Linked DNA regions of Homo sapiens: regions 2 and 3 are each linked to region 1. The links come from fine-mapping of genetic effects on gene expression. A gene starts in region 1. Each other region holds a variant in brackets. All regions are shown on one strand. Distances are from middle to middle.

What was found. PIP is the estimated chance that this variant, and not a neighbour inherited with it, causes the effect.
Region 2: its variant is the best candidate, but not a certain one, in a credible set for the expression of EML5 in whole blood (TOPMed, PIP 0.63).
Region 3: its variant is the best candidate, but not a certain one, in a credible set for the expression of EML5 in lung (TOPMed, PIP 0.82).

The regions. Positions count from the first base shown.
Region 1 is chr14:88,787,132-88,798,018 of GRCh38, reverse strand. It overlaps EML5 (EMAP like 5), which reads left to right and starts at 5,066. Exons shown (of 44, transcript NM_183387.3): 1 at 5,066-5,712. The coding sequence starts at 5,516. RefSeq lists silencers at 4,926-5,285, 5,476-5,555.
Region 2 is chr14:88,829,868-88,837,867 of GRCh38, reverse strand. It overlaps TTC8 (tetratricopeptide repeat domain 8), which reads right to left. Exons shown (of 15, transcript NM_144596.4): 2 at 4,146-4,175. Among named protein-coding and RNA genes, the nearest start is that of TTC8, 9.2 kb to the right of the region's middle. The variant C/T (reference allele first, on the strand shown) is at 4,246.
Region 3 is chr14:88,646,800-88,657,686 of GRCh38, reverse strand. EML5 (EMAP like 5) reads left to right here. Exons shown (of 44, transcript NM_183387.3): 27 at 185-311; 28 at 7,761-7,775; 29 at 10,732-10,740. Among named protein-coding and RNA genes, the nearest start is that of ZC3H14, 89 kb to the right of the region's middle. The variant C/T (reference allele first, on the strand shown) is at 6,556.

The sequences.
Region 1 (10,887 bases):
GTAGCTGGGACTACAGGCATGCACCACCATGCCCGGCTAATTTTTTTGTATTTTTAGTAGAGGTGGGGTTTTACCATGTTGGTCAGGCTGGTCTCGAGCTCCTGACCTCAAATGATCCACCTGCCTCAGCCTCCCAAGATGTTGGGATTACAGGTGTGAGCCACTGTGCCCAGCCTGATGACCTGTTTCTGATGACATCACTTGATCCCTAGGATTCAAGTGCATTGATGCCAGTTCTAGAGCTTTTCAGTCTTATGAGGCATTAAAATTCCCTTTTTATCTTAAGCCTTTTGAGTGGGTTTCTGTCACGTACAACCAAAGAAGTCCTGACTAACACAGTATTGGATATCAAATAAGGTTCAAGGCTGGACATAGTGGCTAACGCTGGCTCACACCTGTAATCCTAGCACTTTGGGAGGTTGAGGCAGGAGGATTGCTCAAGTCCAGGAGTTTGAGGCCAGACTGGGCAACATAGTGAGACCTCACCTCTACTAAAAAATAAAAAATTAGCTGAGTGCGGTGACAGATGCCTGCAGCCTCAGGTACTTGGGAGACTGAGGTAGGAGGATCAATTGAGCCTGGGAGGTCGAGGCTGCAGTGAAGTGTGATCACACCACTGTACTCCAGCCTGGGTGACAGAGCAAGACTCTGTCTCAAAAAAAAAAAAAAAAAAAGAAGGAAAGAAAGAAAACTTCCAAGTTTTCAAAGATTTCAAGTATTCAAGATAAAACTAAGAGGAATCCTATTGTGCACAACACAATAGGATTGTGCACAACATTTTCTTTTCTAATTCATGGTTGATAAATATGTAGGGAACAGCTATTGTAGTACCAGGCACTGTGGTAGGCTCTGCATGTACAATAGGCTGATCAAAGGTAAGACTACAGATATATATATATAATATGTTATATATATTATATACATATTATATATATAATATATATAACATATAATATATATAATATATAACATATAATATATAATATATATAACATATAATATATAATATATATAACATATAATATATAATATATATAACATATAATATATATATAATATATAATATATATAACATATAATATATATAATATATAATATATATAACATATAATATATATAATATATAATATATATAACATATAATATATATAATATATAATATATATAACATATAATATATATAATATATAATATATATAACATATAATGTATATAATATATAATATATATAACATATAATATATATAATATATAATATATAAAACATATAATATATATAATATATAATATATAAAACATATAATATACATAATATATATAATATATATAACATATAATATACATAATATATATAATATATAACATATAACATATATAATATATATAACATATAACATATAATATGTATAACATATATAACATATAATATATATTATATATAACATAATATATATAATATATATAACATAATATATATATAATATATATAACATATAAGAGATATAATATATATAATATATATAACATATAATATATATAATATATATAATATATAAACATAATATATATATAAAATATATATAATATATATAACATATAATATATATATAAAATATATAACATATAATATATATATAATATATATAACATATAATATATATATAAAATATATAACATATAATATATATATAATATATATAACATATAATATATATATAATATATATAACATATAATATATATATAATATATATAACATATAATATATATATAATATATATAATATATATAACATATAATATATATATAATATATATAATATATATAACATATAATATATATATAATATATATATACTTTTTTTTTTTTTGAGACAGAGTTTCACTCTTTGTTTCCCAGGCTGGAGTGCGGTGGTGCGATCTCAGCTCACTGCAACCTCCACTTCCCGGATTCAAGCGATTCTCCTGTCTCAGCCTCCCGAGTAGCTGGGATTACAGGCGCCCGCCACCATGCCTGGCAAATTTTTGTGTTTTTACTAGACATGGAGTTTCACCATGTTGGCCAGGCTGGTCTCAAACTCCTGACCACCCACCTTGGCCTCCCAAAGTGCCGGGATTAGAGGTGAGAGCCACCATGCTAGCTAGAAGTAATTGCATGAATTTTTTTTTTTTTTTTCTGAGATGGTGGCCTGCACCACCACACCCGGCTACTTTTTTTTGTATTTTTAGTAGAGATGGGGTTTTGCCATATTGGCCAGGCTGGGGAATTTTGGTTTTTATGTTTTCTACATTTTGCCTTAGATTTCTTTATAAACCTAAGGGTACCTAATCAGTAGCCAGCACATGATTTATTTGCCTGAATTTTAGAAATATTTCAAATATCTCAAATTCCATACTAGGAACTCAAGTTTCAGGAACTAGATTACCAAAGGGGGTGATATGGTTTGGCTGTATCCCACCCAAATATCACCTTGAATTGTAATAATCCCCACATGTCAAGGGTGGTGCCAGGTGGGGATAATTGAATCGTGGGGGTGGTTTCCCCCATACTGTTCTAGTGGTAGTGAATAAGTCTCATGAGATCTGATGGTTTTATAAATGGAGCTCCCCTGCGCAAATTCTTCTTGTCTGCTGCCATGTGCGACTTTGCTCCTCTTTGCCTTCCACCATGATTGTGAGGCCTCCTTAGCAATGCGGAACTGTGAGTCAATTAAACCTCTTTTCTTTATAAATTACCCAGTCTCAGGTATGTCTTTATTAGCAGCATGAGAACGGACGAATACAGGGGGTATTGCAGCCTTCGTCTGGAATGCTTAACAAATGTCCATTTGTTGATGTGTATAATTTTTTGTTTCTTTCTCCCACATCCTTATTTGCATTACTTTCACAGGATACAGATGATGGAATATCACCTAGCAATAGAAGCTTCATTAAGCTTTCTGATGTGACATTGGTAATACTGGATTATATAAAGTTGTGAGGGTAAGAACTGATCAGGTTTGTTTTTTTCTTCCTCTAGTATTCATGAATGGTTCATTTTCTAGCCACCTTTGTGCCTCGGCTGTCTCTTTTGGTCTTGAGTCGCCAGTTGAGGATGGTTTAATTAAGAATGTTTTTGCTTCGCACTCTACACTTGGGTCATTAAAATCGTAATGGAAAATATGATAATGGGAAAATAAATTACTTAAATCTCTTATTAATCTGAGTACTTAAGTGTGTATCATGGGATCCATAAGATATTGTGCTGAAAAATCCGAAACATAGAAAAAACTATATTCTTCCATCTCGTCTCATAAAATTTACATGTAACCAGTAATTAATATATCACAAATGTATAGCAACAAATATTTAATGTTTTCTAAGTTCACTGCTTGAATTTAAATAATCAACAATTTTTCTTTTTCTCACCAGGGGATTTCAAGGAACTCACTAGTGAATTAGAACATATTCTTATTAAAAAACAGAAAACGCCCTCCTGGTGACAAAGAGAAACTGTGTGTGCTTTTGCCCAGGGTACCCTACATGGGCCTTAGAGCCACTTCTCAGGCCTGATTTCTTTGTTTATTTGCAGCAGCTGCCAGAAAGCTATTCCTCTTTTTCAGATTCTGCCCAGAATGGAAACTCTTTCAGAGTTTACTTTTCATGACATCTATGTAAATTCCTTTCAGATGGCCTTTATTTCCTGCATGTAAACTGCTTGCAGATTAGAAGTCATAATCAAAGACGAAACGGTAATCCTGTCTCAAGTTAGTAACTGGCATCTTTGAGGAAGTAGACATTGGATAACATCTATTCCAATATATCTGTACCACACAGGAGTCAACCCCTTTTGGAGTCATATTTCTTGAAACGATGGTAGTTTATTTTAGCTTTTGTCAGATTTCTGTCTTGGTATTTCCTATGGAAATCAAACAGTAATTTTTAGACAATAAGGGTTCATATTGGTATATCCTGAATTAGTATTTTTTTGTTGTAAATCTTGTGGCCATCCTGAACTTAACACTTTTTAAATTGTGGATTTCCAATTATTTTTAGAGGTATTGATAAATCTTGTTCATATTCCTGTGAGAAGAGGACACAACTGAGTAGGAGGGGAAATGACATAGTCAGGAATTGATTGTTCCCAATACTTTTATTACAGGAGTTTTCTACAGGATCACAATTGAATTTATTTAATTAAGAGTAACTGTTGGTGATGTCCCAGTCATTTTTAAAAAAATCGAAGTACAATTTTTTTTTTTTTTGCTATTCGGAAATCAGATCTCACATGTCAGTTTACCATCTAAAGTCTACCTTCAGCTTTGCGGTCACTTAAGAAAACATACACTTAGGACCAGGAGCAGTGGATTGGGCCTGTAATCCCAGCGCTTTGGGAGGCCTGAGGCAGAAGAACTGCTGAAGGTCAGGAGGTGGAGACCAGCCTGGGCAACACAGCAAGACCCCCGCCTCTACAAAATAAACTTAAAAACAAAGCAAAACATTTGCCGGGCATAGTGGTACGCAACTGTACTCCTTACTACTCCGGAGACTGAGGCGGGAGGATCGCTGGAGCCCAGGAGTTGGAGGCTACAGTGAGCTGAGACTGCGCCACTCCACTCCAGCCTGGGCGACAGAGCGAGGCTCTGTTTCTAAAAATAATAATTTAAAAGCACATTTAGGAAGCTCGGCATCATTCCAATGTCTGGGTCCGAAAGCACTATAAGGCAGCAAGACACACAAGGTATCAAGCGTAAAAAAGAGAATTTAGCATCCCGGTGTGGATTTTCCCAGGCAAAAACGTGGCCTACGCTGGGTGCAGGGACCGTGCGGAACCGGCAGGTGCTTCCCGGTTGAGGACGCAAAGCAGCGGGAGCCCGGGGTCGCCGAGGGTCCGCCTGGGCTTAAGCAGCTCAACGAGGGAGGGCTCACCGGCCCGCGCACTTGCAGAGACGCGGTCCCAGCGACTCCGCAACTAGACCGTGGCCCCGCGAACTCCAGCCTCTTCTCGGCTCCGGGAGGGGCGGAGTGAGCGCGGGAGGGGGCGGGGCCACGCAAGGCCGCGCGCCCGCCGCTCGGCTCGGCTCGGCTCGGCTCGCTCGGTTTCGGGGTGCGCGGCGCGGGTCCGCCAGGCTGTGGCTACAAAGCCGCGGCGGGGCGCGAGCGCCGCAGGTGACCGGGGCTGGGAGCTGCGTGCGCGGGCGGCGGCTGAGGAGCTGGAGGCGGGCCCTCGCTCTCGGCCCAGGCGCTACGGGCTGAGGAGACTAGGCGAGCCGAGGCGGGCGAAGGGCTCTGGGCATCCACTTGACAGCCGGCGGCGCTCGCGGCCCTCAGCATGTTCCGCGAGGCGAGGGTTTTCCTCCCGCCTGTGGGCTGAGGCGGCGGCGGCCCCCGAAACGAGATGCACCTGACGGGCGCGGCTTAGAGGACGCGGCTGGCGGGAAGTCCCGGCAGCCAGCGGGAGGGCTTTCGTTGCCGGGCCGCCGCCGCCTCCCGTCGCCGCCGCGGGCCCGAGCGGGAGCGGCGGGTGGGCGCCCCGACATGGCGGCCCGGAGCGCCCCGAGCTGCCACCTGCGGCTCGAGTGGGTGTACGGCTACCGGGGCCACCAGTGCCGCAACAACCTCTACTACACTGCGGCCAAGGAGATCGTATACTTCGTGGCGGGGGTCGGCGTGGTGTACAGCCCGCGGGAGCACAGGCAGAAGTTCTACCGGGGCCACAGCGACGACATCATCAGGTACCGGGGAGCGGGGGCCGCCGCCGTCACCCTGCAAGCCGCTCCCGGAGTTTGCACCCGCGGGTTCCTCTGGACGCCGTGACCGCTCCTGCACGGAGCATCACCCCGAGGGGAATCCGCAGCTGTCTCTCTGGTCCCGAGTCCACCAGTTAACACCCTACAAATGCCTTTCCCCTCTTCCTCGTCTAGGGACTCTCTCTCGGGTCCGTGCAGGAAGATCAGGTCCGCGGATCCACCGGGCACCCGGTTTGACGGCTTTGTCCCCTTTCCCACTCCATCACAATTACGAAAACTGCGAAAAGGTTATTTTGGTGGCACTTTATTCCGTTAGATCCTGTGAGAAATTTCTTATTAAACGCATTCTTAAAGCACCCGGGGTGGGGGGAAACCCTTTACCTAATAAAGGACTGATGGAAGCACAGCAAGCGGTGGGCTGCTCCCGGGGAGCGCGCCCAGGGTGGCGTCCTGAAGGGCTCTCACCTCCTGGCCGTAATTATTAGTTCAGGTTTCACCGCCTGCTATAATCAGCAGAAACCCCAGGCAACCTCCAGGCAATTCACTGGATGTTAAAATGTGCACACCTGAAGGCAATTTAAGGTAGGTCTTATCTGAAGAGGCTGCTGAAAACTTCACTGATTTCCAGTTCTCTTCATCTTCATTAAAATACTCCTAAATAAGCTACTTTTGTATTTTCTTAAAATTAAATCGCTATTGGGGGGCTATTTTTAGTCTTCCTTGGACAATAACTCAAAGTTGGTCCCAGAGCTTGTTGACATTTCTTTAGTGAGCGGTATATTTGAAATGTAATTTTCAATCAGTGTCTTAGTACAACTTTTATGGTAAAGTCAAGAGCTTCAGAAATCATTCTAGGCCACTGATTATTGCCTCAAGCACAGCATTTTTTGTCCTTTACAGAGGAAAATATATTAAAAGCAATTGAGAATGTGTTTGTGTGGTGCTCTTGGGGTTTTATCAAAGATTCTACGATTTGGGTTTGGTTACAAAATGTTATTCCCTCATGTATGTTGCACAGGATTTAAATTGGGCATTTCAAATACGGTACCTTGGTTTGAAGTCTTGTAGGCAAGAAGCCCTGGTATGTAAATTCCACAAATAAAGTTGTTCTTCTGTTTTGCGTCTCTGTACATCTATAATATGTAAGAGGGAAAGGATGCCTAGGACAAACAGAGGTAGGGCAAGATGGAGTAAAGATAAGAAAAGACAAAATTGAGATTGCAGAGTAAGGAATGAGGTGGTGCTCTGTATTCAGTTGGTTTTTTTTGTTTGTTTTTGTTTTTTGGACACCAGAGTGCTTTTTCAGATTGTATTTAATGTATTACTTTGAAAAGGTAACTGATAAGTCATTTCATTTTTCTCAAGCTGGGACTCTGTATCGTGGTGATTAGGGTTACAGACCTATTATAATAGCCCAAATTGCTGATGGAAAAACAAAACTAAAGTAAACCCGTAGTAATTATTTATCTTCTTAGTTATCCCAAGAGTAGAGTTTACCCCAGTGTCTTGTCTTTTTCCCTAATCCTTTCAAGTCTCCCTTCTTTTCCATATGCTAGGTCTCCCAAAGTACCAGGCATAGTAGCTTTACCTAGCTGGAGCAGCCTTAACTGAAGCCCTGCTCCAGATAATTTAGTCTGTTAGGTTGAATTCAGCTGGTGGAGTAAATGTGAAGGATTTTGAGGTCTTCTCGTGGTACACTTGTATTGTTTTTACTCCTTGGGGGTTATGAGAGCAGTATAGCACTAAGGTCTTCTGAAACTAGATATGATTTATTTGGTGAGGTAAATTACATCTTGTTCTTCTAGCAGTAATTAGAAGCTGTGTTATATGTCACACCGCTTAAATTTCATAATTGTGTTTCAGTAAACTGTAAGGAAGGTAATGCTTTGACTTTCTTTTGGTATAGTTGCACAACTTATACAAAACAACAAACATACTCGAATTTCTCATCGTTGAATATACATGCTTATGATTTTATCCAAATGACACATCTTTAATGTATAACAATGAAAATAAGTTTCCTGAAAAGTTTCAATGAGGGAGTAAAATCTGAATCATACAGCATCTTGAAATTGGTGGCACAAATTTAATATGATACTGAGAATATAATTTAGGAATCAGTGAAAGGGCTCTGGACATTTTATTTCAAATAGTAATGACAGATCATTCATGTTTGTGAAATATATTGAGCTAATATTAAAACCTCAATATTTTTTCAGTTCAGTGTTTGACTTGTGAGTATAGAAACAACTCTAGTAATTTTTAAATTATGCCACAGCAGAAGATGTAATATTCACAAATGTGATGCATAGTGAAAACCAATGTTGCTGTAACCTTAGCTTTAGTAATAAAAAGTCAGTGCTGTTTTCATCATCTGTTTTGTTTCCACCTTTGCCTGAAACTTATGTAAAACTTATTGGTCAAATATTACTTAGTCTGAGGATAGAACTGTTCCAGAATGAGCAGATCATTGTCCTCAGGTTTTGAAAATGTGAGTGCAATGTTGGTGGTAAAGGCTGAATCATGACTAGTCTATCATTTGCTTACTGGTTCTTTGACCATTTTATTATCACCTGGGATTGCCAGTGGTGGTGCCACATGACATTTCATCATTTTCTCAGTAAAGGCTGAATCATGACTAGTCTATCATTTGCTTACTGGTTCTTTGACCATTTTATTATCACCTGGGATTGCCAGTGGTGGTGCCACATGACATTTCATCATTTTCTCAGTAAAGGCTGAATCATGACTAGTCTATCATTTGCTTACTGGTTCTTTGACCATTTTATTATCACCTGGGATTGCCAGTGGTGGTGCCACATGACATTTCATCATTTTCTCAGTGTTGCTTGTAGTTCTCCATCTTCTTTTTGCCATCTACTTGTGTATACTTCTCTAGTCATTTATCTTTTAGTTATATTTATCTTAGTAACTGGTTTATATGGCAATTAGTTTCAATGTCAGAAATAATATAGGGCTTTTGGGGTCACTTTTTTGTTCTTTTTCTCAAGTTATATTGATAAAATTCTCCAGTTATTCTATCAATATAAAATCTATAAATCTATAAAATCTGTATCTATAAAAATCTCTAGTCTAGATTTAAGACTAAGTTATAAAATAAGCTACTACCAGTTTTAGCATAAGATGCACATCTATACCTTGGTCTATATTTTGAAACTTTTGCCAGTTGTTACAAGAATGCGATAGCTTTTTTTTTTTTTTAAACTGAGACAGGCCCTTGCTCTGCGTCACACAGGCTATAGTGCAATGGTGCAATCACTGCTCACTGTATCTTTGAAATCTTGGGCTCAGGTGATCATCCCACCTCAGCCTCCCCAAGTGGCTGAGACCACAGATGTGGGCCATGATGCTGGGCTATTTTTTTTTTTTTTTCGGTAAAGATGGGGTCTCTGTATGTTGCCCAGGCTGGTGTGCTGGACTCCTGGGCTCAAGTGATCCTCCCACTTCCGCCTCCCAAAGTGTTGGGATTACAGATGTGAGCCACCGTGTGCAGCCAGAGTGCAATATCTTTTCAAATTTATTATTCTAGGTACTTCCCGTAAGCAAATTTTTGCAAGATTGTTCTTAAGGATATTATTGAGAGTTTACAAATAATCTATACCAGTGAAGACCATTGATGGAATATAATTAACTTGGGGCATTTTGTTATTTGACTCTGCTTTCCTTATGGGAGTCAGAGCCCATTGTTTATGTATTAAGTAGGTATAGAATTTAGAGTACTTTTTTTTTTTTTTAACATAGTGAAAGGGTCTCACCAGTTGGTGATGAGCTCAAATGACGATGCATCTGAAATATTTTGAAAAGTATACCACACTATATGGTTGCAGGTTAAAATAATAACTGTTCATTGCTTCTATGTATGGCTTTTTTAAAAGACAAAATGAAGGGTGTAGAAGCTATTTTCTTTATTTGTGGTAAATCGTGTTCTTAAGAAAAAATACTGACCAAGTCTTATTGTAGTTTAGTAAAAGTGGTTTTTGACAGCTCAGTATTTATGGTATAGAAACTTAATTTATTCAACGCAAGTCAAAATTGTAATTGGAAAAGCGATTCAGAATAACATTTGCACGGTAGATAGATTTTTTTTGTGTTTATATGGGTTCAGAGTAGCAACTTTTTAAGCTCTGGTAGGAATTACTGGAAACCTACTTGTAGTCTACTTAATGCTTCTAGATACATGCTCATGATTTCCCAAACCTGGCTTATCTTCAAAATAGTTTGAAGAGCTTTTCACCAGTTTCTAGCCTTTTGCTCAAACGCACAAAGTCAGAATCTTCTAGGGTTGGAGCCCAGGAATCTATTTTTTAAAAAGTGCCTCAGATTATTCTGTTTGGGAAACACATTGCCCCCACCATGCCTAGAATTCTTAACACAAGCCGTTTGAGAAATGGGCACAAACCCTCTCCTCAAACCTGATACCAGAGTTTTCTTAAGCACTGTGCAATATGTAGAAGTAGTGCTTCAAAAAGTATTAGAAAACATATTTAATAAAATGTCCCTGTGCTTAAGTAACTAGAATTAGATGGACTTAACATTTATTTATAGACCATGTAACAATTATATTTGGTAAGATTTCATTTTATGTGTTGCAATATCAAAATATTTATGGTTTTTTAAATATTGCATAATTTAAGGGATAAAATTAAGAGATGTTTTCCAGGAAAAGTAGGAATTAACTAGAATAATAGTTGAAGTTGTAATAGATGTGTATTAAGTATATATTCTTTAGGGAGAAGCCAGATTATTAGATTTACATTTAATTATTTTCCTTTATTATTTTATAATGTCTTATGTGCAAATATGCAGACAATTAATAAAACATGTTTTGGATATACATTAAGGAAAACGTGGAATAATGAATTATTAGAAGCTATTAAGAACTTTTATTTCAAAGTTTTCTCATCCAAGAAATATTTGTTGAGCTTCTGTTTTGTGCAAGAATCCCTGCCTTAAGATACTCAGAGTTTAGACACAATCAGATGCTCAATGAGCATATGTATACTAGGAATAGCACTAATGTACCTGTGATATGGTATGTACATGGGGATATAAAAAGTTCACAGTGTTTCTTATAGAATATAATACCTAAGCTAAGTCTTTGAGGACAATAGGGAGAAGGGTCATCAGAAGAAATGAAAG
Region 2 (8,000 bases), 41 kb before region 1:
AACTCCAATTGGAACTGTGAGAGCCAACAAAGTATAGAAAAAAAATCTCAGGTTTTCACTCATCAAAGATCAGGAACAATACCATATCTATACAACTGTTCCCAGGGATCGGGGAAGTCCTCAATGGCTTGAGCTAATGTTCTAATTTAACTTCAAAGATGGAAATAGGCAATACTGATTTATATTAAATCTCTACAGGTCATACTGCCCTGCCAGTATCTGACAGCTTTGATTTTTCAAAAGAGCATTCTTTGCTCAGCACTCTCTGGTGGACAGGAAGGACTACAGCATTTTCTGTTGGAACAGCAAAGCACAACATGGGCTCTGCTTGTTCATTCCCATATTACCAGGGGGCACCTACTGCATGCTACATCCTGAGTATACAAAGAGGAGTAAATCATAGTCCTAGTTCTAACTGGAAAGAATTTCCATGTAATGGGAAAAATGTAATAACAAAAATGAAAAACAAAAAGAAGTGTGTGATAGAACAGAGGAAATGTGTCCAGCTACCTGGGAGTGGAAGGAAGGGTAGAAGTGAAGAATTGGGCCCAGCGGACAGGCAAAGTGGACAATAGGCAGGCTAGCTAGAGAGCCTATGGCATGTTTGGAAACTCTAGGAGAATTGAGTGTAGGTGAAGAATGAGGGAAGAGGTTGGAGAAAAAGTCAGGAGCCAGGTGATGGATCCTGTATGCCGCAGTGAGGTATGTAAATTTTTATCCTGATGAGAAGCTAATGAGGCTTCAGAACTATGATTTGGAGTCCTACCTAAATCAAGTTTATTTATTTATTTATTCATTTACTTTTTGAGATGGAGTTTTGCTCTTGTTGCCCAAGCTGGAGTACAATGGCGTGATCTCGGCTTGCTGCAACCTCCGCTTCCTGGGTTCAAGCAATTCTCCTGCCTCAGCCTCCCAAGTAGCTGGGATTACAGGCACGTGCCACCACGCCCAGCTAATTTTCTGTATTTTTAGTAGAGATGGGGTTTCACCATGTTGGTTAGGCTTGTCTCGAACTCCTGACCTCAGGTGATCCACCCTCCTTTGCCTCCCAAAGTGCTGAGATTACAGGCGTGAGCCACCATGCCCAGCCTTAAGTTTTAAACATCAAGTTTTATCATTATAGCAGCATTTATATAGTTGGTTATTAATATATTTTACTTTTAACTATTTTCAAATTCATACTGTTATTTCATAGTCCAATTCATCATGATTCTTGACATCCATCCCCCAACTGACGTCTTAAATATTAAAGAGTTAGAAATTTTTTATATTAGGCTAAGCAAAATATAGAAAAGAAAATCCACTCTTCCTTCCCTGCAATATGAATAAATACTTCCGAAGTCAAAGTCAAATAGGAACTTTTTTTTTTTTTTTTTTAAGACAGGCTCTCACTCTATCTCCCAGGCTGGAATGTAGTGGTGCAGCCTCAACCTCCAGAATTCAGGTGATCCTTCCACCTCCCACCTCAGGTCTCAGGTTCCAGAGTAGCTAGGACTACAGGTGTGTACTATCACACCCAGCTTTTTTTGTTTGTTTGTTTGCAGAGATGGGATCTCACTTTGTTGCCCTGGCTGGTCTTGAACTCCTGGTCTCAAGTGATCCTCCTGCTTTGGCCTCCTAAAGTGCTGCGTTTACAGGTGTGAGCCACTGCACCAAGGCTAGGAATATCTTTTTAAAATTTTTATTCCGTAAGAATCCACTTTTTCAAAAAGATAGAAAAATATTAATTTAATTTCTAAAATATGATTCTTAAGAAACAATGGTATGAATTTTTGATATTTACAGCTCTAGAATAAAATCTACTCAGACTGTTATTCAATTTTAAATTTTATCAGTGTTTGAGAAAATTAATCTTCCTGAGTTCTCTTCTGTCCTAACAAAAATGACCTTGAAAATCACATATCACTGCTTGATTAAACATCAGACTGTTTTCAAAGAACTGCTCCTGGCAATGTGAACAATTCTTGAGATTTTAATGAAAACAGCAGAAGGAGCTTTGGCTTTAAAAAAATAATAATTTTTTTTTACTTTGGAAACAAGCCAAGTATGTTTCACATCCCTAAAATCCTCTGCCTGTTTTAAAAAAACAAACCAAAAAAAAGTTTAAAACTAATCAGTGATTAAAATAAAATGAATAACAAAGCACACACAGTAATCCCAAACTACCCCTTAAAACTAAATAAAAATATAAATTTGCCTTATCAGATATGTTTACTTATTAACAAATGGGAGGGTCACACAGTTTTTAAAAAATAGTTTATGTAAATTTATTTAAATATTTATGTATTAGAAGTACCATAATATCAATAAAAATAAGAATTGATGCTTTTGGAACTTTGTTTTTTAAGGGAAAAGCACAGATTCTCCCAAACCAAATGAATAATCATATCAATTTTTCCCTTTTTATCTGTGAAACACAATCCCATCTCACTCACCAACTGAGTTAGTCTATAGGACATTACTCCTGAAGCAGATACTTGCCAGCAAACATCAGGAAAATATTGACTCACTCATTCCATCCACTGTGACACTAGTTCAGTTTTAGTTATAAAAATAAACAGATGAAGGGGTTAAAACTCTGCTGACTGAGCAAAGCATGTTTAAATTATTCTGTTACTCTTAATACAGAATGCAAGGCCAGTAGATTAAAGCATGTAAGAAACAATTTTAGGTTATTATTAGAATAAGGCTATGAAAGGAACAGTCTGTCTGACCTGATTTAGCATCATAAGACTCAGTAACTATGGCCACTCTGCCTACTCTATGAAAATGAAAACTTAGGCACAAGATACTGAATTGTTATTGTATATAGCCTCATTCCTTTTGAAGTTGTAACAGTGTGCAAAAATAAGAAATTCCAAAAGTGGAAATAGTAAGGCCAAAAGAATCTAGTCAGCCTTGTTCCCTTTTGTATCATTATCCAGTGAATAATTAAGTCTATACAAACAGAACAGGAAAATAATGCCAAATACAGATTTTTCATGAGTCCTTGTGCTAGTTTAAAGCTCTTAAATGCCATTTATAGTTTTAAAACCATTTCTACAATGCAAATTATTGATGTTTTAAATTTTAATCAAAATCTTCCAAATTTCCTGAGAACAAAATCCACAGTATTTATAACTTTGATCCTTCTTGAATGACTTGTACCCATATTATGCAAAAAAAAAAATAGTTTTGCCCCATCTATCAGTTTGTAAATCAAGATTATGAACATTCAAAAGACAAATGTCAGCCTTTTAAAGAACACAGTGCCACATTTTAACCTATTTACAGTGTGTGTTTAATACTACACAAGCCTCCATAAGAGTACTTTGTAAATTGCTTTTTATTCTAAAAGGTTTGCTAATTACACATATGGACCCCTAATAAGGTTCAAGTCTTTTATTTACCTAAAAAAACCGCTGTTAACATTCCATCTCGCTTGGTAGGGCTAACACCTGGCAACATTTAAGCTCTCTGATTTATAACTCTGCACAACTTCTCTCCTTAGTCCCAGACTCACTGGCAACTCTCCTGGATTAAAAGTATCACTGGCCAGGTGTCCCCCTCCTCTCTCCCAGGGTTTCCTCCCAATTCATTCTCTTGTGTTTTATCCAGTTAGCAAGGCTCTAGCTGCCTCCTATCCTTATCCAAACTGATTTGCTCGATGTGACTGTCTGGCCAGTGTCCCTTTCTTCTTCCCTCACTGTGGCAGCCTCCTCCCTCTTAGAGCCACCAGGTCAGTTAAAACCAAGACCTTCCCAAGCACAGTCCACTCTTGACTCAAGACATGCCATCCCATCCATCACAGTCTTTCAGACATTTGTCATTCCGCTGACTCTCCCGCTCCCTTTCTAAGCCCTTGGTTCCCCTCACCTCCTTCTTTATTTTTCATATCCTTCTAATCCATCTTGGTCATTTCCATTTAAGCTCCAAGTCCCAATGAGTAGACTGCATTATTAGTTCTACAAGGCTATCAATATACACAAAAGTATTGAAAATATAATCATTTATTTACATAAGAAGGCACAGAATGTCTGACAGATATGGCTAATTTTATAAACCCACAGGAAGATATGCAGCAAATTTTCTAATCTATAGCAACAACTAAGCAATAGCATTAAAGAATTCTCTAAACTAAAGGTTGCAGCTAAACCTTTCTTTACCTGATGCACTGGCAATTCAGGATCTGGTTCCTGGAAAGCATTAAGAAGGCAGTAAACAGTTTTAAGAAATACAGTTTCTAAAATAAAAAGTCCTAAGGAC[C/T]AACCAAGTATTTGTAGGTGAACTCTAACTCATTCAATAAGAATCCAAAAAATTAACTTTAGTCTTCCTACAGAAGTGTTCTCAAGAGTTGTGTAAAATGAATATACATTGAAGAATGCTAAATTTTCAATGATCAGAAAATTCTAATTAATCTAACCTCATTCAAAGTGCAAAGAGATGATAACTACTTGTTTAATGAACACACAATATATCAGAAATTGAGAATAATCCCATAACTATACCAAGGAAATATTTCCTTTTATTCAAAAATAAGTTCACGGTGGTTAAAACATTCAGACTTTAATCACTTAAGGAGAAGAAGGAAAATCCACATAACACAAACCCTTCAGATAAACTCAGCATCTGGGTTTTTCTGTACAAATTAAATAGAAACCCACTGGTTAAAAAAATCAGACTTATAACAAATTTATTTATAAAACATCTACACTTACATGTCTGTCTAGTCAGCAATGTCTGTTGAGCACTCAATCTGTTTTACTGGGGAAAGTACTAAGAAACAGAAAAAGGAAAAAAGATCCTTGCTTTCTACAGCTCTAAATCCAAAAAGAACACCTCAAATATTTTTTAAGAATATATTCTTGGTACAAGCAATGTGCAAACCATATGGTCACCATGCAAGGACAGGTAATTTATTTAACATGACGCATGGTAGGAACATGAGAGGAAAAGGTTAAGTTAGGCTAGAAAATGAGGGCCCCAAAGGATGGAAGTTACAGAAGATGTGGCAATCAACTGAACCGAACACAAAACAGCAACTAGAGAACACATAGCAATTGGAGGTTTTCAACTCCAGTGCACCTACCAAGGATGTAGAAAAAGTATAGATTTCCTAAATACAGTCCAAACTTAAGGAAACACACCAATCCAGGGAATGACATGCCAGATGAAAGAAGTAACACATTCTATTCTTTCTTTCTTCTGTTTACTTGTATACATATCTCTATAGCCCATTATCTCATTTGAGTCTCATAACAACCATCTGAGGAAAGCAGGTAAGTATTATCTACTTTACAGATAAGGAAACAAATTCAGAGATGTTAAGTAATTTGTTTAAGGTCACACAAACGGTTGAGGGAATCAAATGCTCCTTCTTGCCAGTGCCTCTTGGAGATTAAAAAAAAAAGAGAGTTGGACATAGTAAGGCAGGAATGAAAGGTAAAGTTTAGGAGAGATACAAGATAAATCCAATATATTATAGAAAACTGAGGGAGAAAGTTTACTAGAGGTGATTGTAGACAATGCTTGAAAAGGAAAAAACAGCTAAAGGAGACAGAAGCCACTGATACTGGATGCTGTGATTTGCCAAGGGCAGGTAGATTCCTCCAGTGACACAAAATGAAACCACCAGCTCAGCCTCAGAGGATTTCTGCTCACTGAGGAAAGTCTCCGCGATCTCTCTGTCTTGTTCCTCTGCCCTTCAGGGATACATTTAGGGCTGATCATGTGGATGAAGAGTGTGTAGGGAAATTACAGGAAATCATCAATGTGCAGGTCAGAAGAGAAAATGAGAGGCCTAATGAGTAGGGAGGTGCAGAGACAGGTGAGGGATTGCATTGAAGGAAAATGGAGACCAGGCCTAAGTGGGTATGAGGCCAAGAACACATTAATTCCACAACATTCTAGAGGGGGAGGCACCTAAATTACAATACAATGTGTCAAATACTATACTCACATTGTGGTCAAATTATAGATGACTTAGGTGAACAAAAGAAAAGCAGAAGACATGGAAGATAAGAGAGTCAGAGAAGGGGGAGATTATTCTGGAAATTATTGAGTGCCAATGATTTATGAACTATATTCAACATCCTTTCACCATCCATTTCACTGGACATCTTCCTCAAAAATGCTTTTCAGATTCCCAGCAATCCTTTAAGAAAAATATAGATGATAGAATCCTGCATGCAAATATCTGTAGGTATACAGACAACAGCAGCTAACATTTTTTATCACTTACCACATGTTCATGAGCCTTATAACACCCTCTGAGTTATAGGTATACTATCATCACCATTTACAGATGAGAACACTCAGAGCAAGATGTTACAGGACCTGTGAGCCCCAAAATTGGGGCTTAGCCCAGGAGGGTTCTTGGCTCTGCCAAGGAAATAATTCCAGGGTGAGTCAGTGGTATTAGACAGCAATCCTTTATTGGCTGGTACTGCTCCTTGCAGAGGAGGGCTAACTCATAGGCAGTGTAGCCAGAATCAGCAACTATGGGCTCTTGGCAACTGTATTTATACTCATGAAAACCCACTTTCAATTACATGCAAATTAAGGGGTGGGCCAATGCAAATTAGGGAACAAGTTATTTAGAACTTTCTAGGAAAGGGGCAGTAACTTATAGGTTGTTGTCATGGAAAGAGGTGGTAACTTCTGGGTCATTGCCATGGCACTTTTAAACTGTCATGGCAGCTGGTGGGAGGGGTGTTCTACTGATGAGCAGTGAGGGCAGCGAGGGGTCGCTTTCCTTGCCATCTGCTGGTTTCTTCACTTTAACCTGTCTAGACTAGATCCTATTTTGGTCAGCCGTGTTGTGACCAGAAAACAAGTCCTGTTGGTCTCTTACCTCAAAGGTATAGAGGCAGTATTTGAACCTAGACACTCTGGGCCCAGAGCAGGACTCTGCTGAGTATGTGGGATGACAGCAAGGATGGAACACAGACTACCGTAGGATGTGGAGAGACCAAGGACAGGCATGGCTCTGTGGAGATCCATCAGGAGCAGGACTATGAAGGAAGAGTCGGAATGTTTTAATTAGGAGATAGGGGAAAACTCTTTTTTAAAAATCACTGAGCCTTTCCTCTTTGGGTCGCTCTCAGTTGTAGTTCTGTGATTTAAATTAATCCACCCGTGCAGCTTCACTTAGTCTAGCAAACTATTTCTACAGGTATCAGCGCAGTTGAGCAGAAAGCTCCAGGCTTTGCCCTAGAGTCAGAAGACGTGGGCTAGGCTTGATCCTCAGGGAGCCACTTAGCTGCATGACCTTGAACAAGTCATATAATCTACATTACCTTCTCAAATTAAAGCAATAGTACCTACTTCATAGGAGAATCTTAAGGACTAATAATAAAACCTTGCATTTTTAAGAAAACTTCACAACTTTTAGAGTTCTTTCACATATATTATCATACTTATTCAAGTATAAGCTTAACAGAAGCACCAAACCATCTATTACTCCCCCTTTCAGAACTCAGAACTGACTCCCAGTGATGGAAGATCAAATTAAAACTTCCTCTGAATCTCCCTCAAAGTGGGTAACAGGACATGGAAAGTAGAGTGCCACTTCCTAGAACCAGAAAATACCCATTAGCATCAACTTCAAGTCACATCTGTTTGCTTCCTTCCTTCCACCCTAGGGTTCAGCATTTTCTTAGCTTGTTTCTGTTACTTTAGGGAATTAAATCTCCAGATAATTCTGAATGCAACTTTCTAATTACCACCACTACTTATGCTGGCTAATGAGTCTCCTCAGCTTAAACTGCCGAGTCATTGTTCAAAATTTAGTAATAAAAGAAGGGGGAAAAAGTTTAAGAGAATAGAGGAATTGATGGATTTCAGAAGGTTAGAGAGATCTAGTGACCACGCAGCCAAGTGGGAGTGTAATCTGTGTAATTCAGCAGGAATACAAATTCATAAAATGACCTGCCCCACAGCGTATAGAATCAAAGGATTAAGTCTGGCTAAGTCTCCATGGCCCCAAAGAGGAAACCAATTAGATAATCACACGATATGTT
Region 3 (10,887 bases), 140 kb after region 1:
GAAAACATCATTACATATAATTAAATATTCTTCTACATCGTTTTTTCTGGTTGTATATTACTTCATAATTTGCTTATAACAACTTAATTTATTTCATATTGTTGAACATCTTTGTATCCAATTTATAAGATCATAATTGATCTCAGTTATTGCTTAAAGAATTACTCGTATATTTTTATTGTAGGCTATGACAGTGATGTTACAAGGGAGAATGAAATCAGTTACACCATCAGAGCCTTATCAACAAATATTCGCCCAATGTTAGGAATCAAGCCTCATTTACAACAAAAAGAACCCTCAATTGATGAAAGGTAATAATTTAGTTTAGTATTAGATGAAGAAAAAGATATTGTCATTAAAAATGGAATTTATTATTTAAGTGGCTTTTTTACACAAACTAAGTAACAGTGATATTCTTGCTATAGACAATTCACAGCACCTCTTAGAAAGTATGTCTGTCTTTAAATACCTTTTGGTATCAGCCTGGGTGATGTAGTGAGACCTTGTCTCTATGGAAATATAAAAATAATCCAGGTTTAGTGGTGTGTGTTTGTAGCCCCAGCTACTTCAAAGGCTGAGGCAGGAGCATTGCTTGAGCCCAGGAAGTTGAGATTGCAGTGAGTTATGATTGGTGCCACTGCACTCCTACCTGAGTGTCAGAATGAGGCCCTGTCTCAAAAAAAAATACCCACAAAAACAAAACCCTATTGATGGTAACACTATGTGTTAACACTATTGGTTTAGGGATTTATACATGTTTATAAGGTTGATATGATTCATCTTATTTGCTAACTTTTATAAATGTGTGTGATGAGGTTGGAGGAGATAATAAAAATTGAATCCAATACCGAGTACTTTTTAAGAAGTATGTGAGCAGTATTGTGATTCAATTTTGAAAAGGCCTGCCTATCCATGTGCCTTTCTTTAAGCATAGTCAGTCCTCATTTCAAAAATTTTCTAAAAAGGCAGGTTGTCTTTAATGGGAATTATTGGTCTTAGTCTAGAATCAGCAAATAAAAAAGTAAGGACATATGCAAGGCCATTTTATGAGGAGAGATCACTTTTTTTTAATTATACTTTAAGTTCTGGGATACATGTGCAGAACGTGCAGGTTTGTTACATAGGTATACATGTGCCATGGTGGTTTGCTGCATCCATCAGCCCATCATCTACATTAGGTATTTCTTCTAATGCTATCCCTCCCCTAGCTCCCCACTCCCTGACAGGCCCCAGTGTGTGATATTCCCCTCCCTGTGTCCATATGTTCTCATTGTTCAACTCCCACTTATGAGTGAGAACATGTGGTGTTTGGTTTTCTGTTCCTGTGTTAGTTTGCTGAGAATGATGGTTTCCAGCTTCATCCATGTCCCTGCAAAGGACATGAACTCATCCTTTTTTATGGCTGCATAGTATTCCGTGGTGTTTATGTGCCACATTTTCTTTATCCAGTCTATTATTGATGGACATTTGAGTTGGTTCCAAGTCTTTGCTATTGTGAACAGTGCTGTAATAAATATACATGTGCATGTGTCTTTATAGTAGAATGATTTATAATCCTTTGGGTATATACCCAGTAATGGGATTCCTGAGTCAAATGGTATTTCTAGTTCTAGATCCTTGAGGAATTGCCACACTGTCTTCCACAATGGTTGAACTAATTTACACTCCCACCAACAGTGTAAAAGCATTGCTGTTTCTCCACATCTTCTCCAGCATCTGTTGTTTCCTGACTTTTTAATGATCACCATTCTAACTGATGTGAGATGGTATCTCATTGTGGTTTCGATTTGCATTTCTCTAATGACCAGTGATGATGAGCTTTTTTTCATGTTTTTTGGCCACATAAATATCTTCTTTTGAGAAGTGTCTGTTCATATCCTTAGCTTTTTGATGGGGTTGTTTCTTTCTTGTAAATTTGTTTAAATTCTTTGTAGATTCTGGATATTAGCCCTTTGTCAGATGGATAGATTGCAAAAATTTTCTCCCATTCTGTAGGTTGCCTATTCACTCTGATGATGGTTTCTCTTGCTGTGCAGAAGCTCTTTAGTTTAATTAGATCCCATTTGTCAATTTTTGCTTTTGTTGCAATTGCTGTCAGTGTTTTAGTCATGAAGTGTTTGCCCATGCCAAGTCCTGAATGGTATTAGCTAGGTTTTCTTTTAGGGTTTTTATGGTTTTAGGTCTTATGTTTAAGTCTTTAATTCACCTTGAGTTAATTTTTGTATAAGGTATAAGGAAGGGGTCCAGTTTCAGTTTTCTACATACGGGTAGCTAGTTTCCCCAACACCATTTATTAAAGAGGGAATCCTTTCTCATTGCTTGTTTTTACCAGGTTTGTCAAAGATCAGATTGTTGTAGATATGTGGCATTATTCCTGAGGCCTCTGTTCTGTTCCATTGGTCTATATATCTGTTTTGGTACCAGTACCATGCTGTTTTGGTTACTGTAGCATTGTAGTATAGTTTGAAGTCAGCTAGCATGATGCCTCCAGCTTTGTTCTTTTTACTTAGGATTGTCTTGGCTATATGGGCTCTTTTTTTAGTTTCATATGAAATTTACAGTAGTTCAATTCTGTGAGGAAAGTCATTGGTAGCTTGATGGGGATAGCATTGAATCTACTTTAAACCAACAAAGATCAAAAAAGACAAAGAAGGGCATTACATAATGGTAAAGGGATCAATGCAACAAGAAGACCTAACTTTCCTAAATATATATGCACCCAATACAGGAGCACCCAGATTCATAAACCAAGTTCTTAGAGACCTACAAAGAGACTTAGACTCCCACACAAAAATAGTGGGAGACTTTAACACCCCACTGTCAATATTAGATCAACGAGACAGAAAATTAACAAGGATAATCAGGAGTTGAACTCAGCTCTGGACAAACGGACCTAATAGACATCTACAGAACTGTCCACCCCAAATCAACAGAATATACATTCTTCTCAGCACCACATCACATTTATTCTAAATTTGACCACATAATTGGAAGTAAAACACTCCTCAGCAAATGCAAAAGAACAGAAATCATAACAAACAGTCTCTCAAACCATAGTGCAATTGAATTGGAACTGAGGATGGAGAGACTCACTCTGAACCATACAACTACATGGAAACTGAACAACCTGCTCCTGAATTACTACTGGGTAAATAACAGAATTAAGGCAGAAATAAATAAGTTCTTTGAAACCAATGAGAACAAAGAATACAGCATACCAGAATCTCTGGGACACAGCTAAAGCAGTCTTTAGAGGGAAATGTATAGCACTAAATGCCCACAGGAGAAAGTGGGAAAGATCTAAAATCAACATCCTAACATCACAATTAAAAGAACTAGAGAAGCAAGAGCAAACAAATTCAAAAGCTAGTAGAAGACAAGAAATAAAGATCAGAGCACAACTGAAGGAGAGAGAGACACAAAAAACCCTTCAAAAAATCAGTGAATCCAGGAGCTGGTTTTTTGAAAAGATTGACAAAATAGATAGACTGCTAGCCAGACTAATAAAGAAGAAAAGAGAGAAAAATCAAAAAGACACAATAAAAAATGTTAAAGAGGATATCACCACTGATTGCACAGAAATACAAACTACCATCAGAGAATGCTATAAAGACCTCTACGCAAATAAACTAGAAAATCTAGAAGTGGATAAATTCCTGGACACATACACCCTCCCAAGACTAAACCAGAAGTGGAATCCCTGAATAGACCAATAACAAAGTCTGGAATTGAGGCAGTAATTAATAGCCTACCAACCAAAAAAAAGCCCAGATGGATTCGCATCCGAATTCTACCAGAAGTACAAAGAGGAGCTGGTACCATTCTTCTGGCTATTCCAAACAATAGAAAAAGAGAGACTCCTCCCTAACTCATTTTATGAGGTCTGCATCATCTTGATACCAAAACCTGGCAGAGACACAACAAAAAAAGAAAATTTCAGGCCAATATGCCTGGTAAACATCGATGTGAAAGTCCTCAGTAAAATACTGGCAAACTAAATCCAGCAGCACATCAAAAAGCTTATCCACCACAATCAAGTCGGCTTCATCCCTGGGATGCAAAGCTCATTCAACATACCAAAATCAATAAATGTAATCCATCACATGAACAGAACCAATGACAAAAACCACATGATTATCTCAATAGATGCAGAAAAGGCCTTCGATAAAATTCAGCACCCCTTCATGCTAAAAACTCTCAATAAACTAGGTTTTGATGGAACATATCTCAAAGTAATAAGAGCTATTTATGACAAACCCACAGCCAATATCATACTCAATGGGCAAAAACTGGGAGCATTCCCTTTGAAAACCGGCACAAGACAAGGATGCTGTCTCTCACTACTTTGATTCAACATATTGTTGGAAGTTCTGGCCAGGGCAATTAGGCAAGAGAAAGAAATAAATGGTATTCAAATAGGAAAAGAGGAAGTCAAATTGTCTCTGTTTGCAGATGACATGATTTTATATTTAGAAAACTCTATTGTCTCAGCCCAAAATCTTCTTAAGCTGATAAGCAAGTTCAGCAAAGTCTCAGGATACAAGATAAATGTGCAAAAATCACAAGCATTCCTCTACACCAATAATAGACAAACAGCCAAATCATGAGTGAACTCCCATTCACAACTGCTACACAGAGAATAAAATACCTAGGAATACAACTTACAAGGGATGTGAAGGACCTCTTCAAAGAGAGGTACAAACCACTGCTCAAGGAAATAGGAGAGGACACAAACAAATGGAAAAACATTCCATGCTCATGGATAGGAAAAAATCAATATCGTGAAAATGGCCATACTGCCCAAAGTAATTTAGAGATCACTTTTTAATAAAGTCTCTGAGCTAGATGACAGATTAAGAAATAAATTGTGAAACTAGTGTTTCAAAATCAAAGGTGGTAAACAATAAAAAGGGATATGGAGCATTGAATGGCATGGACTTCAGAAGCAAAGAGGTTTAAAGAACAAAAAAGGAAAAGATCCAGAAACAGTAAGAAGGAACAGAGGGAGTGGGAGGTGAGAACAAGGTTGTGGTGAGGAAAACTTTATTATGAGAAGTTAGTGGACAATTTGAGGGAGAAATTAAAAGGGAATTCATTCACAGTTGAACAGGATTTGTAGAAAATTCAAGCGAATTTGTGGCCATTTAGGATAGTGCTGAAGAATTTTGGAACTCAGAGAGATAGAAATGACTACAGGAAAGCTTCGTCAGAGGGATTTGAGTTTGCACCTATGGATTTTATATTCGGGGAAAGGGATGAAGTTAAGGTGAAAAACACGTTAGTAATGGGGAAGGGAGAACTGAGAGATCTTGTAAATTGACTGACCCCCGCGTTGCCAGGGAAGTCTAGATGGAGTGTTAAGGGCGCAGTGCCTCCTCAGCTCCTTTTCCAGGTGTCGTTTGCTGATGGTATACCTCATGTACCTCAGATCATAGCAATGGGAGGTCACCTAAGGAAAGGGGATGGAGAGTGATCATCCAGTTTTTCATTATGTATAAAGAGGCAAAGTATTAAATTAGGGATATTTTTAAGAAAGCACAGTATACCATAATCTAAGTACTTGTACAGAATTCCATGTTTCAAGTAACTTGCTAGAATGCAGCATCGTATAGTGCAAAGGACATGAATTCTGGAGTCAGACAAATGGGTAAAATACTCATTTTTTTCATTACCAGTTGTGTGAGTTTGAAAAATTATTCATTCTTTCTGAACCTCAGTTTCCTCAGTGGCAAAATGAACATTATAATCCCTAACTTATGGTATATTTCAAGTTTTAAATGAAATAATGTAAATCAAGAATTTAGATAGTAGGTCTTCATTAATGACACCTTATCCCTTGGAATGAAATGAAAGTTAACTGAGGAGATACCTGGTAAATACTTAAACATTATTTCTGAAATTAAATATTCACAAAGCAATAAGCGCTACATATGTATTTATTAGATAAATACAGATAAATATGAAAATATAATATTATTTAAATATTCTAATTAGAATATTTGAAGTGTAGTGTTTAATATGACTTAAGGAAAATTATGTCTCCTAAGTAATGAAAAGTGAAAAGTGTTCTATGGGGAAGAAGGGGCTCTAGACATTCCCATAAATTTCTTTCATTTGTTATATTGATTTTTTAAAAAAATTATTTATTGGATAAATTTGGTATGTCAGAAAATGTGACCTAATTTTAATCTGTAGTCTGCTTCATTCACGGTAAAACACTTAAATGTAAATTTCCACCCATTGCTGAAGTGAGGCATGTTCTGACAGATGGAAATATTTTACTACTCATGAAGAATGATTAACACTGTCATAACTGAAATCTTTGATGTTAGCTTGTATATTCTGCAGCTAACTTTTTCAAAGTAATTTTTCAAATTGCTTTGCATTTTGTTCTCAATTTACTTTACAATTTCAACCCTGCTAAATATTTTGAAAATGACAAGGTGTGGGGAGGGAGAGAGAGGGTCTGTTGGCCCCCGTGGCAGAGTCCAAGCTCTACTCTTTGCCTTAAAAAAAAAAAAAAAAAAAAAAAGAAAATGACAAGGCAGAAGTCAT[C/T]AATGTGATTTCATTTTCACAAAATGAAAAAAAATCAAAGGAGATTACAAATGAAGAGGTTCATATCTCTTTTACCAACTTAGAATATTTGTGAGGAGATAATATGGTTCATGGTTTATTTAAATAATTGCTTTTTAGTAACATATATTACTGTCATAAATATGAAATAAAGCACTTTATATGGAAAACAGGCCAGGTGCTGTGCCTCATGCCTGCAATCTCAGTGCTTTGGGAGGCTGAAGTGGGAGGACTGCTTGAGACTAGGTGTTTAGCACCAGCCTGGGTAACACAGCAAGACCCCATTTCTACAAAAAATAGAAAAATTAGCCAAGAATGGTAGTACATGCCTGTACCAGGAGGTTCCTACTCAGGAGGCTGAGCAGGAGGATTGCTTCAGCCCAGGAGTTGGAGGCTGCAGTGAGCTATGATCGCACCCTTGCACTCCAGCTATGGCAGCAGAGTGGGATCCTGTCTCTGGGAGAATAAATAAATGAAAAAAAAATTAAAAACAATTAAATACTTATCAAATATCCACTTAAAAGGAAAAATGCTTCTGATGACAATAACCATTCTATTTGGTTGATACTTTCGTGGATGTTTTTCCTAAGTGATAATTTTACCTTTTTCTTTTTTAATAAATGTTTTTGTTTTTATTTTTTTGTTTTGTTTTGTTCTTTTGAGACAGAGTCTTGCTGTGTCGCCCAGGCTGGAGTGCAGTGGCACGATTTTGGCTCACTACAACCTCCAACTCCTGGGTTCAAATGATTCTCCTGCCTCAGCCTCCTGAGTAACTGGGATTACAGGCAGGCACCACCACGCCCAGTTATTTTTTGTTATTTTTAGTAGAGACGGGGTTTCACCATGTTGGCTAGGCTGGTCTCGAACTCCTGACCTCAAGTGATTCACCCACCTCAGCCTCCCGAAGTGCTGGGATTACAGGCATGAGCCACCTTGCCCAGCCAATAAATGTTTTTATAACAAATATTATGTATTTAAAGTAGTTAATTTTTGTCAAATTTCCAGTATTTGTGAATAAAAATATTTAAATCAATGTTTAAACCAATGTGACATAAGTTAGACATTTTTGTATTTCCTTAAAATTCTGTTGACATGTTGCCTTTCTTCTGTTTGCTAAAATGCTGTATTCTATTCATCATCAATTTTTATATGTTTTCCTACTTTTTTCCCCCTTGCTCCTTTTGAAGGCAGGGAGTAGTAAGGTAAGTGTTTTATAAAAGAAAATATTTTATTCAAAAATTTACCCTTTATTTTATTCTTTATGGTATTTTAAGGTATTTTTTCCCTATAAAACATTTAACTACATTTGTCAACAAAGCATTATAAAATGAAGTAGGACAAATTCTATAAAAGAGTTGCATTTTTAGATAGCATATATGGTTGTTATTATAAGGGTCTTCATTATGATAAATTGTTTTACATATGACTGTACAAACTACTACAATGCAAATGAATAGTTTTGGTTTTCTTTAAGTTTCAGAGGCTCGTAAAAACAAACCTAACCACACATATATTTAAGTGAAAGACTATTCAATTTTAAACCTGTTAACATGATTTAATGCATGTTTAATCCATTCATTTAAAAAGATGAAAAGAGGGTAACTATGGTATTTGTATGTTTAATAAAATGACATGTAGGTAAAGACTCTTTGGGTTACTTTTATATCTACCTTTGGTGATGTGAAAATGTCTTGAAAGAGTTTCTGAAACGACAGTGTGGAAATGGCTAGTCTGTTTTATAAATTAAAAAAGGTATCATGGCTGGGCACGGTGGCTCAGGCCTGTAATTGTGGCTCAGGCCTGTAATCTCAGCACTTGGGAAGGCCGAAGTGAGAGGATTGCTAGAGCCTGGGAGTTCAAGACCAGCCTAGACAACATGATGAGACCCTGTCTCTACAAAAAATAAAAGTAAAAATAAATTAGCTGGGTGTGGTGGCAGCCCTGTGGTCCCAGCTACTCAGGAGGCTGAGGTGAGAGGGTCTCTTGAGCCTGGGAGTTTGAGGCTGCAGTGAGCTGTGATGGCATCACTACACTCCAGCTTGGGCAACACAGCAAGACCCTGTTTCGGGGGTGGGGGGTGGCGGGAGGAAGGTATCACTAGGAAAATGCTGGGAGATAAGGATGAAAACAGTAGACTTGAGACCAGATGGTGCAGAAACTCAAATAATAGGCACCTGTTAATATTATATCTACAGCAGGAATCCATCATCTGTTTTAAGCAGAGTGGTGTGTACAAAGATATGAGTTCAGAGTATGAAGCAACCTCTAAAATGGGCCATAAAATCTTATACTATTTTACCAGAAATAAAGCACCCGGATCTAGCCTCACATCTAGAATAGCTTACTCAGTACTGATCTCTACATTTTAAAGGAGACTTGGATAGTTTATAATGGGCTAGAAGAAAGCACAGGAGGAAGGGAGGTTGGGAGGCCACTTCATATAAAGAATAGTTAATTGACCGGGTGCAGTGGTTTATGCCTGTAATCCCAGCACTTTGGGATGTTAAGTTTGAAGGATCAGTTGAGGCCAGGAGTTAAAGATCAGCCTAGCCAATCTGATGAGGCACCGTCTCTACAAAAAAAATTTTAAAAATTAGCAGGGTGTGGTGGTGTGCACCTGTGGTCCCAGCTACGTGGGATGCTGTGGCAGGAAGATGTCTGGAGCGTGGGAGGTCAAAGCTCAAGTAAGCCATGATCACACCACTGCACTCTAGCTTGGGTGACAGAGCAAGACCCTGTCTCAAAAAAATATAATAATTATTATTCTGGGAATCTTGTTTCAAAACAAGAAAACTAAATGGAGATATCATTGTTATCTTGGATATGAATGGCTTTTTATGTAGAAGAGACCTGTCACAAGCAGTATTTATACAGAGTTTAGATGATTAGTTGTCATCAAAGCTGTACAATGATTGTTCTAGACATGTAAAGAAGGTTCCTGGTCTCAGTGGGAAAATGGATGAAATGACTTTCATGATTCCTTCCAATTTTGTTTTGATCATTATGCTATTAAGAGAGAAAAAAAACTTTTTAAAGATTACTTTTTTTACTAGCAAAATTCTAAATTCAGCATAGTCCCGAGTGACTAATTCTGCCTGCTTGGATTCACTGACTGGGGAACCCTCTTAGGTCAGAACAGGTGGAACTTAGGCTCTTTAGACAATTTCCTTTGAAGTATCTCCAGTGCTACCAGCTTTTTAAATTAACATTTTAGTGCCAGTGCCCATTCTTAAAAACAAAAATAAGCTTAAATGTTTTGTTTAAAATTCAGATTATATTGCAGAAAAATAAGAATGGCAAGCTTTAAAGTTCACAACATGAAATATATTGAATTCTCATTTATTTGTTTTTTTCTTTTTTCACCTTTCTTGTGATTCCCTGTTATTAATTAATGGAGTAACCCTTTTTTTTTTTTTTTTTTTTTTTGAGACGGTCTCACTCTGTTACCTAGGCTGAGTGCAGTGATGTGATCACAGCTCACTGCAGCCTTGACCTTCCAGGTCAAGTGATTCTCCCACATCACCCTCCCATGTAGCTGGGACTATAGGTGCCACAGGCCTGGCTAATTGTTGTGTTTTTTATAGAGATGGGGTCTCACAGTGTTGCCCAGGCTGGTCTCAAACTCCCAGGCTCAAGCAATCCTCTTGCTTTGGCCTCTCAAAGTGCTAGGATTACAGGTGTGAGCCACTGTGCCCAGCCTTATGCCTTTTCTTTATTCTTTTTTCTTTCTTTTTTTTCTTTTTTTTGAGATGGAGTCGTGCTCTGTCGCCCAGGCTGCAGTGCAGTGGCGCATGCAGTCTTGGCTCACTGCAACCTCCGTTTCCTGGGTTCAAGCAGTTCTCCTGCCTCAGCCTCCTGAGTAGATGGGATTACAGGTGCGTGCCACCATGCCTGGCTAATGTTTTTTGTATTTTTAGTAGAGACGGGATTTCACCATGTTGGCCAGGCTGGTCTCGAACTCCTGACCTCGTGATCCTCCTGCCTTGGGCTCCCAAAGTGCTGGGATTATAAACTAAAAACAACAGGCCTTTAATATTATGCAATATAGCTGTCTGCATTAAACTTGTTAAAATATTTTATTACAGGAGGTATTTCACTAGTGTTTTCAATTCAAATTTATGTTGTAATCTTTTTCCCTCTTTATCTGCTGCTGAAAAGAGGTTCCAGGTAATCCTCTCTTTGCTGTGTTTACAAAGCCTAACTTTGTATTTTTGTCATCTTCCATATTTAGCATTAATGGGATACTGTTACTTAGTGTTCTTTACCTCTCTTCACAGTTTTGCACATTTTTTTCCTTTGGAATTGGTATCACTG